3 linked regions of the Homo sapiens genome follow. The protein of the gene in region 1 purifies or fractionates together with the protein of each later gene. This does not show direct contact. Each region holds a gene or a part of one and is shown in the gene's direction. Other genes may lie near its edges.

Region 1 (3,751 bases):
CCCCCTTTTTGGGCAAGGGATTTCTGGTAGGCTGGGATGAGAGAAGTTGATTTCCAAACCAGAATTAATGAATGTCTCTACCGTACTTAGAAATACTATTTAAGCAAGGCTCTGAAGTTGCTTAACTTTTGTCTCTATTTGAAATTCTAGGGTGACAATGAAGAACAAGAAAAATTACTGAAGAAAAGCTGTACGTTATATGTTGGAAATCTTTCTTTTTACACAACTGAAGAACAAATCTATGAACTCTTCAGCAAAAGTGGTGACATAAAGAAAATCATTATGGGTCTGGATAAAATGAAGAAAACAGCATGTGGATTCTGTTTTGTGGAGTATCCTTCCCATGGATCTAATGTAGCTGCTGAACCAGGGTAGAGCTGAGAGTGGTAGCTCATAAGCGTCCCTGCACTCGTCCCTACGTTTTCCTTCATCTCCCTCCTACTTTCCACCCAGTGTGTCTCTGCCCTTATACTGTAAAGCTGATACTATTTATATTCTCTTCTGAAATCCATGCTTTATGGTTCTTTAACAAAAAGTTTTTCAAGAATGTTTGCCCTTCACGTAAAAAAAAAAAAATTCCAAAGAATGTAGTGAAAATATAAAAATCTCGTACTGTTCTAAACCCCTAATGCCCTTTGCCAGAGGCAGTCAGTTACCAGTTTCTTGGGCGTCTTTCAAGAAGTAACCCTGTGGGTGTGCGGTAGTGTATTTCATGTGCTGTTTTTAAAATCATTTTTTTATTTTTTATTGTTCCATTTCAGCATATGTAGGTCTTTTTTTAAAATAGCTGTACAGCTGGGCATGGTGGCTGGTGTTTGTAGTGCCAGCTGCTCAGGAAGCTGAGGCAGGAGGATCAGTTGAGCCCAAGATTTCAAGGCTGCACTGAGTTGTGACTGTGTTCCAGCGGGGGTGACGGGTTAAGACCCCATCTTTAAAGAAAAAAACTTTTAAGTAAATAGCTGTATAGTATTTCATTATATAGATGTATATAACCTGACTGTATAGGTACAAACCAAAACTATTTACTTTGATCATTTAATTCCCTTACTCAGACTCTTTTAAGTATTGGACCTCTTGGATTTATCCTATGTTCTTTTTACTGTATGTTTTGGTCATTCAATTTAATATTCTGAGAAATTTTGCAGGCCCAATTTAATATATCTTTTGAATTTTTTCCTGTGCCCTGAATTATGTTTGTTTCGGTTGAAATTTTTCCTTAAGTGTCTGGTGATCCCTGGATTTCTGCTCATAATTAAGGAAAAGAATGCTGACTCACTGGACCCAGGCAGGGCTTCTCTCCCAGATTGCAGGCTTGCCTCGGGGATACACAGGTTTCCCAAATGCTAGAATGAAAAGAGATTTTATTTTGGCTTGCTAACATCAAAGATACTAGTTTCTCCAGATGGTTTATTCAGAACACTGTTGTCTTATTTTTATTTGTCTGAGATTAAATGTCTTCCCCTTTAATTAAAGGGAGGTCTCTGATGAAGTAGGTTTGGGAACTGCTACCTTGGTGACAGCTTGAGTCTTTCCTTTAGTGAAGTGCAGCACAATTCCACGTGCACGGTGACCTTCTCTTGATTAGGGTGCCTTGGAATGTACAGAACCTAACTTGAATATACAGCACTGGTTTCTTGGATAAGAAGTGTACAGTGATCTAAACTTGCAAACCAAAATACAGAGATGATGGGACCAAAAATTATCAACAGGAATGTCCAAGAAATATGATCAGTGTAGCCATGGATACGTGTCATATTTGACTCTATGTGCTTCCAAACCAATCGCAAACAGGCCTGGGCAAGCTGAATTACTGTCTTTGAACTCCATCTGGTTGGATTAGCTCTTGTACTTTTTAACAACTCAGCTTCATTTACATGTTGTTCCCCTATTTCCAGAAATGTTTGGAAAAATGCTAGTGTTCCTTAATACTTAAGATATTACTCACGCGCAGATGCGGAAAACGCCATGCGGTACATAAATGGGACGCGTCTGGATGACCGAATCATTCGCACAGACTGGGACGCAGGCTTTAAGGAGGGCAGGCAATACGGCCGTGGGCGATCTGGGGGCCAGGTATGCAAGAAGGGTCTCTGGGCTCAGCCATTGCCTGGGATTCCAGTCACAATGACAGGTGTTTTGGCAATTTGTATTTACTCTTTTGTAAATAACTTTGTGTCTATAACCTTGGCTTGAAGTGGATCTGAAAACCACCCAACGGTTTGGGTGAATTTTTTTTTTAAACCGTGAAATGGTATGTTCTGTACGTTTCTAACAAGCAACCATTCTTGAACTTCTGCTAGGGCTAGGTATCTTCCACCTGCAGGAACATCTAAAATGAAAGCAAAACGCACTGAAGTGAGCTGAAGTGCATATGTCCTGCTTGAAATGTTCACATTGTGGCATCTGAACAGGTTTCACTGTTTGTCTAACATGTTTGTGGGAGGCATATTTGTTACACCATTCTTTTCCATACTGTAACTCTGGATTCTTTCCATTAAAGGTTCGGGATGAGTATCGGCAGGACTACGATGCTGGGAGAGGAGGCTATGGAAAACTGGCACAGAACCAGTGAGTGGTGAGAGCTCTGTCAGTGACAAACACTCCTTTGGCCTGTTGAATTTGCTGAAGAACATCACCTAAAGTCTGCACACGAGCCCATTTTTACCAAGATTTGATCAGTGTCTTTACTGAGCTGGAAGCCTCTGAAAGTTATTAAAGGACAGAATCCAAAAGAATGCCTTTAATTCTTGTCTGAGAATCTTGGCCATGTGTCAGATTATCAGAACAATTTTGTTACCAGGTCAGAAATTGTGTTCTTTGACAACAGATTGGATCTGTAATGTTGATTAGTCTTTAGCCATAACCACTACACTTTTAGAAAGACAGAAAAATGTAAGAATTTGTTTTTACCATAATGAGTCTTAAGTAGGTTCATGATCTACATTGGGGCCTGGGATTATTTTTTTAATTTTAAGTTTGCATGAGATAGCCTAATAAATGGAGGTGGGGCCAGGCATGGTGGCTCACACGTGTAATCCCAACACTTTGGGAGGCTGAGGAGGAAGGATAGCTTGAGGCCAGGAGTTTGAGACTAGACTGGGCAACATAGCAAGACCCCGTCTCTACAAAGCACAACGAAAAACAACAAATGGAGTTGTGCTATGTTGTATTGCTTTGCACAAAATTAGGAACAGGTGTTTGACAATTGAATTTGTTTTCTGTGAATTCTAACCTCTAAAGGCATGCTTAGAGGTCAAGGACCTTCCTGTGTAGTTGGTGCAAAAGCAATCTCCACAGGACAGCACTGCTTCCATGCTTCATACATCAGGAAATGAGGCCAGAACTTGAGTATTTACTAACACGTTTTTCAAAAGATGTCAGTGTTATACCTAAAGCTAAAAAAAAGCAAGGGTTTGTCATAGAGGGAACCTCTAAATAATTTCAGGGGTAGGGGAGATGTTGTCAATAGGAAATGGGATAAAATATCAAGAGACAATGAAAACACTGCCTTGACATGAGGACCAGCAAGTTTATTCTTTTCATTTTCAGTGATGTTGGGAATGGACTGGGTTTTAAAAGGGAGCTTGAAGAGGGAATGTTTGACAGTCACAGAAGGTTCCTGCAGCAGATGCCTCTTTTAGCCATTTCTCATTTTTTTCCTCAAATTTTACCTACTGAGGCTCAAGCCTTCACAGTGAGCTGATGGTCTCTACAGGGAGGGGAGTCTAGGGAATTTATTTGGTATTTGTAA
Region 2 (3,751 bases), on another chromosome or scaffold:
GCAATCCTCCTGCCCCAGTCTCCCAAAGTGCTGCAATTACAGGCATGAACCATTCTTTCTTTACCTATACACTTTTTATTTGTTTCTCTATTTCTTTCTTTCTTTTTTCCCCTTGAGACAGGGTCTAAGGACCTGGCTCTATTGCCCAGGCTGGAGTGCAGTGGCGCAATTTCTGTTCACTGCAGCCTCTGCCTCCTGGGCTCAAGTAGTCCTCCCACCTCAGCCTCCAGAGTAACTGGGAGTACAGGCATATGCCATTACACCCAGCTAATTTTTGTATTTTTTGTAGAGATGTTGCCCAGGCTGGTCTGGAACTCTGGGCTCTAGTGATCCACCCACCTCAGCCTCCCAGAGTGTTGGGATTATAGGCATGAGCCACCACGCCTGGCCTATACAGTCTTTTCCTGTTCCATGTGGAAATAAATAACAAGCATCAGATGCTTAGTTCTAATTATTTGAACAAGCGTAAGGGCAGGCAATGAGTCTGGAGTGAGTGTACAGTTAACACTTCAGCTTGGTGCCATCCCCCACCAAAAAAAAAATACAAAAAAAAAGTATCTCCCAGTAATGACAATACCCTACATAACCACAAGACCCATTATCACTCCTAAGAGAAATAAAAACAATTTCATAGTATTCAATATCTAGACCTTATTCCAATTTCCTAATTTGTCCCAAGAATATATTTTATATACTTTCCCCCTAAGCAGAATACAGTCTAGGTTTCCATATTCCATTTGTTGTATCTCCTCCTGTATTATATATTTTTAATTAAATTTTTTTTTTTAATTTTTGGAAACAAAGTCTTTTTTTAAAAACTGTTTTTTTTTTTTTTGAGATGGAGTCTTGCTCTGTCGCCAGGCTGGAGTGCAGTGTCATGATCTCGGCAACCTCTGCCTCCCGGGTTCAAGCAAGTCCCCTGCCTCAGCCTCCTGAGTAGCTGGGATTACAGGCTTGCGCCACCACGCCCAGCTAATTTTTTGTATTTTAGTAGAGATGGGGTTTCACCATGTTAACCAGGATGGTCTCGATCTCCTGACCTCGTGATCTGCCTGCCTTGGCCTCCCAAAGTGCTGGGATTCAGGCATGAGCCACCACGCCCGGCCGGAGACAAAGTCTTACTCTGTTGCCCCAGCTGGAGTGCATCATCACAGCTCACTGCATTCTTGACCTCCCTGGTCTTAGATGACCCTCAGCCTCCCAAGTAGCTGGGACAACAGACATGCACCACTATGGCCAGCTAATTTTTGTATTTTTTGTAGAGACGGAGTTTCTCCATGTTGGCCAGGCTGGTCTCCAACTCCTGGGCTCAAGCAGTCCTCCCACCTTGGCCTCCGAAAGTGCTGGAATTACAGGTGTTAGCCACCTTGCCTGGCCCTCCTTTATTCTTTTTAACCCCACATTTTCCTTCATGATTTAGACCTTTTGAAGAGTTAAAGATGGTTAGGTCAGGCGTGGTGGCTCCTGTCTGTAATTCCAGCATTTTGGGAGGCCGAGGTGGGCAGATCAGTTGAGTTCAGGAGTTCAAGAGCAGCCTGGCCAGCATGGTGAAACCCCGACCCTACTCAATACAAAAATTAACCAGGCATGGTGGCGGGCGCCTGTAATCCCTGCTACTCGGGAGGCTGACGTAGGAGAATCGCTTGAACCTGGGAGGTGGACGTCGCAGTAAGCCGAGATCACACCACTGTACTCCAGCCTGGGTGACAGAACAAGACTCTGTCTTTAAAAAAAAAAAAAAAAAGTTACAGGTGGTTATCTTACAGAATATTAGGTTACCTTATTATATTTTGGTGATTGTCTCCTTGTGGCTTTCATTCATTCTTCTGTCTCCAGTATTATAAACTAGAAGGTGTAGACTCTTTAGTATTTTAAATCATGTTTGTGTTACTGGGAATATCTTTTACGGACATTCTTCTACAGTATGGATTTTTCAAAACTTAAAATTTGTTTTCTTTTAATTTGTTAATCCGAGAACATGATTTGCACTTAGCATTTATTCATAGACTAAAGATTGAGAACTAAACTCTTGCATAGGAAAGAGGTGGTGCACATCTATCACAGCTGTTGTATTTGAGTAGCCGCACATTTTCCTTATGATAACAATGGTGATAAAGGTAATAGGAATGTGTCTTTTAGCCATACTGACTGTAATGCTAATGATGACAGATAAAGCAACTTACCTTGAGCTGGTCCAGGTAATTGCATTTTGCATCTGCTCAGTGTTCTTTTTCCTTAAGTTTTCTGGCTGTTCTCTTAACAGTCATTTTAATAGAGTCTGCTATATTGACATTCCTATAGGAAATGTTACTGTAAATCTAAAATCTCTAGTAACTACTTTTTTCATTTCATTGTAACAACTGTTTCAGTAACATGATTTGTAACAATGTAAGTTTCCTTAGGAACACAACTGTTGAGTGGTAGCAAAGATTATACTCTAATGTTCTCTCCTCTCACCCAAAGTAATTCTTGACAAAAAGTATGTACTTAAAAGATACCTTCTAAGTAACTAAACCTTGGACAAATAATATTCTCAGGCAGGAGAAAAGAAATACTGTAACATTTATTGATTTCCTCCCACTGGACCAAAGATTAATATTATATAACTTAATCTTCACCACATTGTATCACCGTGAATGTTACAAATGGAGAATAATCAAAATTATATGCCTGAGATCACACAGACCACTCTGACTCCAAAACCATGTTGGAGTTATTTTCACTGTATTATGTCTTTGTAATTCAGTTATTCCAGCTCATTTAGGGAAAGGATTTTAATACTAGAAAGTTTTTATGTCAAACTACCAGAAACTTTGCATTATAATAACAAAAAATAGAAACACTTGGAATATCTAATAATAGGGAAATGTTGACTTACAAGGACATTCTTTTGTTTGTTTGTTTTTTTGAGACAGAGTCTCACTCTGTCCCCTAGGCTGAGTGCAGTGGACGATCTCGGCTCACTGCATCCTCCGCCTCCCAGCTTCAAGCAGTTCTCTCACCTCAGCCTCTCGAGTAGCTGGGATTACAGGCATACCACCACACCCGGCTAATTTTTGTATTTTTAGTAGAGACAGGGTTTCACCATGTTGTCTGGGCTTGTCCCAAACTCCTGACTTCAGGTGATCCACCCTCCTCGGCCTCCCAAAGTGCTGGAATTACAGGAGTGAGCCACTGCGCCTGGCCAAAAAATTCTTTTTAAAAAGAGACGGTTTCACTCTGTCACCCAGGTCTCACATTATGTTGCTCAGACTGGTCTTGAACTCTGGGGCTCAAATGATGTTCATGCCTCGGCCTCTCAAAGTGCTGGGATTACAGGTGTGAGCCACTGTACCTGGCAGTTTTGTTTTGTTTTGAAGAGGTAGGTCTCCTGCTATCACTCAGGCAGGAGTCCAATGGCACTATCGTAGCTCACTGTAGCCTCAAACTCCAGGGCTCAAGTGACCCTCTTGCCTCAGCCTCCTTAGTAGCTGGGACTGTAGGGCACATGCCATCACTCTCAGCTTATTTTTAAAATATTTTGTAGAGACAGGGTCTTATATTGCCCAGTCTAGTCTCAAACTCCTGGCCTTAAGCAATCCTCCTGCCTGGGCCTCCCAAAGTCCTGGGATTACAGGTGTGAGCCACCATGCCTGACCAATAAAATTTTATTATAGATCATTTATTTCAGATGCCACCTAAATGATGATGTTATAATTATTCTTTTAATTGCTATATTGCTAACAGTCACCATATGTAGAACTTAGAAGCC
Region 3 (3,751 bases), about 74 Mb from region 1:
ACAGCAGCATTGTTTGTGACAGTAAAAAATACTGTTCTATACTTTCAAATTTCTCAAACTATAAAATGATATTGTCAGAGAGACAGTAGCTTATAAAACACCATGTATGGTATGATAACATTTTTGTAAAAGTAACATACATAGGAATTCAACTTCCAGCAATGGCCTACTGTTGTTTTCAATCAACCTTTCCACTACAGAGAACAACTGAACAAAATATAAAAACGTTAATGTACTGAAGAGCTACCAAGGAAGTGAGAATTTGTGAGTGCAAGGTCTGGAAGAAAAAGGAAGCCACCAGAGGTTAGCCTGATATTTGCCATCATTTTTCCAAAGCTAAGGTGATTGCTGACTCTGAAAGCAGTGGCTGAAACAGGGAGAAGAGCTTATGGCTGTCTCATGGGGCTTAGAAGGCCCACCAAAGAGAAGAGGCCCTAGTAAATACCCCAGACTTTTGGATGGGACCATCAAGGACTAGCTAGGAATAAGGGTGAACCGGAAATAAATTAGCTTTCCCAAAGACTGAAGACCGGCTCTGAATAATCAGTCTTAGTTCCTTATTGGAATAAGGTGATCTGTCTTCAGTCTAGCTGTGGTCAGGCAAACTTGCCCTTAAGTCTCTCCTGTTGAACACACCTTCCCTTTCCCCAGCCCCCTTGCTCAAACTCAACTCTGATCTTAGTAAACACAACATCAGCGGGAGAATGCTGATGCAGCAGAGAGAAGTCCAGGACAAATGAACATTGCATAACCTAGGATTCAGGTAGAGTGGTCCTCTCTCCTCTCCTCTTCCCTGGGACATTTATAAATGTATTAATCTACCTCATCTCTTTCACCTTGCTTCTTGGCATGTGTTTTAAATCTGTCTACTATTCCGTGATCCCTGCTAGGCTGGCTTCAGTTTTTCTTCTTTTGAAGCCACTACTCCATTTGCTCCCCCAAAGAATTCCATGAAATTTAACATTAGCAATCATTTGCTCCAAGTTTTCGTTTGAGAGCAGTTGAGAGTAAAACGAGTATGTGTTTCATGTAGTTTCATTATTATTATTATTATTATTGTTATTATTATTTTTGAGGCAGGGTCTCACTCCGGTTGCCCAGGCTGGAGTGTAGTGGCGCGATCTCGGCTCACTGCAGTCTCACCGTCAACCCCGGGCTCAGGTGATTCTCCCACCTCAGCCTCCCGAGTAGCTGGGACTTCAGGCGCCCGTCACCACCCCCTGCTAATTTTTGTGTTTTTAGTAGAGACGGGGTTTCGCCATGTTGCCCAGGCTAGTCTCAAAACTCCTAGCCTCAAGTGATCCACCCACCTCGGCCTCCCAAGGTGCTGGGATTACAGGTGTGAGCCACCGCGCCCGGCCCTTAATTATTTTTGATACTACGCATACGTTATCAAGCAAAGGGGATGGGAGATAACTAAAAAAGGAATGTCCAGAAGCTTCCTGCATTCATGCTGCATGTGAGCCCTTTAGACACGAGGCGCTGACCTACTAATTTTGTAATACTCCCTCAGCCTTCAATCATTCCATCATTCATTCCATCAACGCGTATTAGGTACTTAGAAGCTATACAGAGGTGAGCATCGATCCGCCCTGGAAGAGCTTAGCAAAGACAGGTTTGTACATATAACTTTCTCCAACCTTTGCCATGGTCTGCAAACCTCCTTCTTAGCGAGACCCCCTCCCCGACCCCCGACTCTTCACAGGCTGGGCGCTAACCATTAGGAATGTCCGGCGAGAGAGCGTTACAAGACTACGTCTCCCGGCAGCCTCTGCGACAAGCGCCGGAGGGGCGCGCGTAGGCGCTCGGGCCGGCCCCCGCACGCAGGCGCACTGCGAACGCCGGCTGAGCTGAGTCTCGCTGCTCGGTGCGAGGCGGCGGAGAGCGAGGCCTGGTGAGCACCGCCGAGGCGCGGGCCAGCTCTTCGAGGTTGTGCGCGGGAGTGGCACGGCGGGCGGGCGAGCGAGGGGCTAACTTCAGCGGTGGCACCGGGATCGGTTGCCTTGAGCCTGGTGAGTGCTGGGGCCTTGCGGCCCCGGCCCCTCCCCCTCCCGCCGGCAGATCCGGGCAGTCCCGGAGGGACTCAGGAGAGGCCCTGGGGCGAGGGCGGGTGCCGGCAGGGCCTAGAGCCGGGGTTCCTGGGCCGGACGCTCGCGCCGCGTCCGTGCGTCACGGGCCCGGCTGTCCTAACGGCCACAAGGCCGGCGGAGGAGAGGGTGGGGGTGGGGAGCCCTGGTGTGATCGCCATCGGGAACGCCGGTCGAGGCTAGGCGGGGCGGGGCGGCGTGGCGCGGCGGCGGGGCTGTAAGCGGCGCCGGGGACTGCGGGGCGCCGAGGCAGCGGGCGGAGAGGAGGCGAGCGCGGAGCCTGCGCCGCGGCCGGGCGGCGGGCGGGAGGCGGGGGTGGGCCGCGCAGAGCGCTGTGACAGAGGCAGGAAGGAGCAGGGGTGGCGTGTAAAAATTCTAACCCTGGCAAAAAGGGACCGTCTTGGGAATTCACAAGTTACAGACCGGGTCGGAGCCGGCGGCCCGGAGGGAGGTGGGGGAAGCGGGGGGTGGAGACGGCCGGCTGCAGTTTACCGATGTCATAACAACATGGGCCTGGAGCGGCTGATCGGGGGTGTGGTAATTATAGCAATGACAGAACTTGGTCTGCACGCCGCGTGTGCGATGCGAGGGAAGCAGCGAGGTATCGGATTAAGCTCAAAACGGGAGGAGGAAACAAGGATGACTGGAGTCAAGGAAGTCGTCATGAAGTAATGTTTTAGGATTGGGTCGTGTTCCACTTTTAAATGAAAGCGTTCAAAATATTTGATTTTTAAGGTTTCAACTCAGAACAAACGATTGCCGAGTTTTTGTTTGTATTTTAAAGAGATGGGGTCTCGCTATATTGCCCAGGCTGTACTCCAACTCCTGAGCTCAAACTGTCCTCTTGCCTCAGCTTCCCAAGTAGCTGGGACTAGTCTTGGGCAACCACACCCAGCTCTGCAGAGTATTTTTTTTTCTGAAACGTACTGTCAAGTAATATTAACTTGAATTTCACCCTTTTTTCTTAAATAAACGGTTGCTTAAAAATCTCTATTAGTAGATGAAGTGATTTCCCCCCTCCTGTTTTGTTTTTTTTTTTCTTAAGAGATGGAGTCTTGCTTTGTTTCCCGGGCTGATCTGGAACTCCTGGCCTCAAGGCATCCTCCCTACTAGCTGGAACTACAGGCGGATGCCACCAGCAAGGCTCATTCTCGACATTGTTTTTGTCTTAACTAGCTTTTGCATTTGTAATATTTTGAAAGCAGTACACAAGTTATTTTTCCCTCCTTTTTAAAGATCAAAGAGATGAAAATTTAATTTTTCAAAGGAAAGTAAGAATGAGTTCTGTTGTATTTTTACTGAAATATTCTTGGAAGACACTGTTTTATGGATAGATGAGACGTAAGAGAAAGTAAAGGAATTAACATTTATTGAGTTCTTTTTTCAGGTATTGTGTTAAATGCTTTACATATATTAAAAACATTTGAATCTGAAGTATCTGTTAATTTTTCTATTTTACAGATGAAAGCATTGACAATCAAATGTTAAGTAACTTACCTAAGGTCTTCCAGTTCTTGTTGAGAACAACCTTAGAACCCAAAGTTACTGCCATTTAAATTATTTCTCTCCTTTCATACTTTTTCGTTGTTTTCTTTATTTAATCCGTTCAATCAGCGAATACTTACAGAGTGATCTTCTAGACTTGGGGGGATATAGTCGCGATC

Evidence for each region.
Region 2: the proteins of NCBP2 (region 1) and PHAX purify together in Homo sapiens (affinity purification with mass spectrometry; 5 studies listed by BioGRID and IntAct, with this or other methods). This does not show direct contact.
Region 3: the proteins of NCBP2 (region 1) and KPNA1 purify together in Homo sapiens (affinity purification with mass spectrometry; 3 studies listed by BioGRID and IntAct, with this or other methods). This does not show direct contact.

Annotation. Positions count from the first base shown.
Region 1 is NC_000003.12:196,935,832-196,939,582, reverse strand, and holds part of NCBP2 (nuclear cap-binding protein subunit 2), read left to right. Parts: intron 1-150; coding exon 151-332; intron 333-1,934; coding exon 1,935-2,073; intron 2,074-2,500; coding exon 2,501-2,572; 3' UTR 2,573-3,751. UniProt on the Homo sapiens protein: Component of the cap-binding complex (CBC), which binds co-transcriptionally to the 5' cap of pre-mRNAs and is involved in various processes such as pre-mRNA splicing, translation regulation, nonsense-mediated mRNA decay, RNA-mediated gene silencing (RNAi) by microRNAs (miRNAs) and mRNA export.
Region 2 is NC_000005.10:126,617,850-126,621,600, forward strand, and holds part of PHAX (phosphorylated adapter RNA export protein), read left to right. Parts: intron 1-3,751. UniProt on the Homo sapiens protein: A phosphoprotein adapter involved in the XPO1-mediated U snRNA export from the nucleus.
Region 3 is NC_000003.12:122,513,018-122,516,768, reverse strand, and holds the start of KPNA1 (importin subunit alpha-5), read left to right. Parts: upstream 1-1,829; 5' UTR 1,830-2,012; intron 2,013-3,751. UniProt on the Homo sapiens protein: Functions in nuclear protein import as an adapter protein for nuclear receptor KPNB1. Binds specifically and directly to substrates containing either a simple or bipartite NLS motif.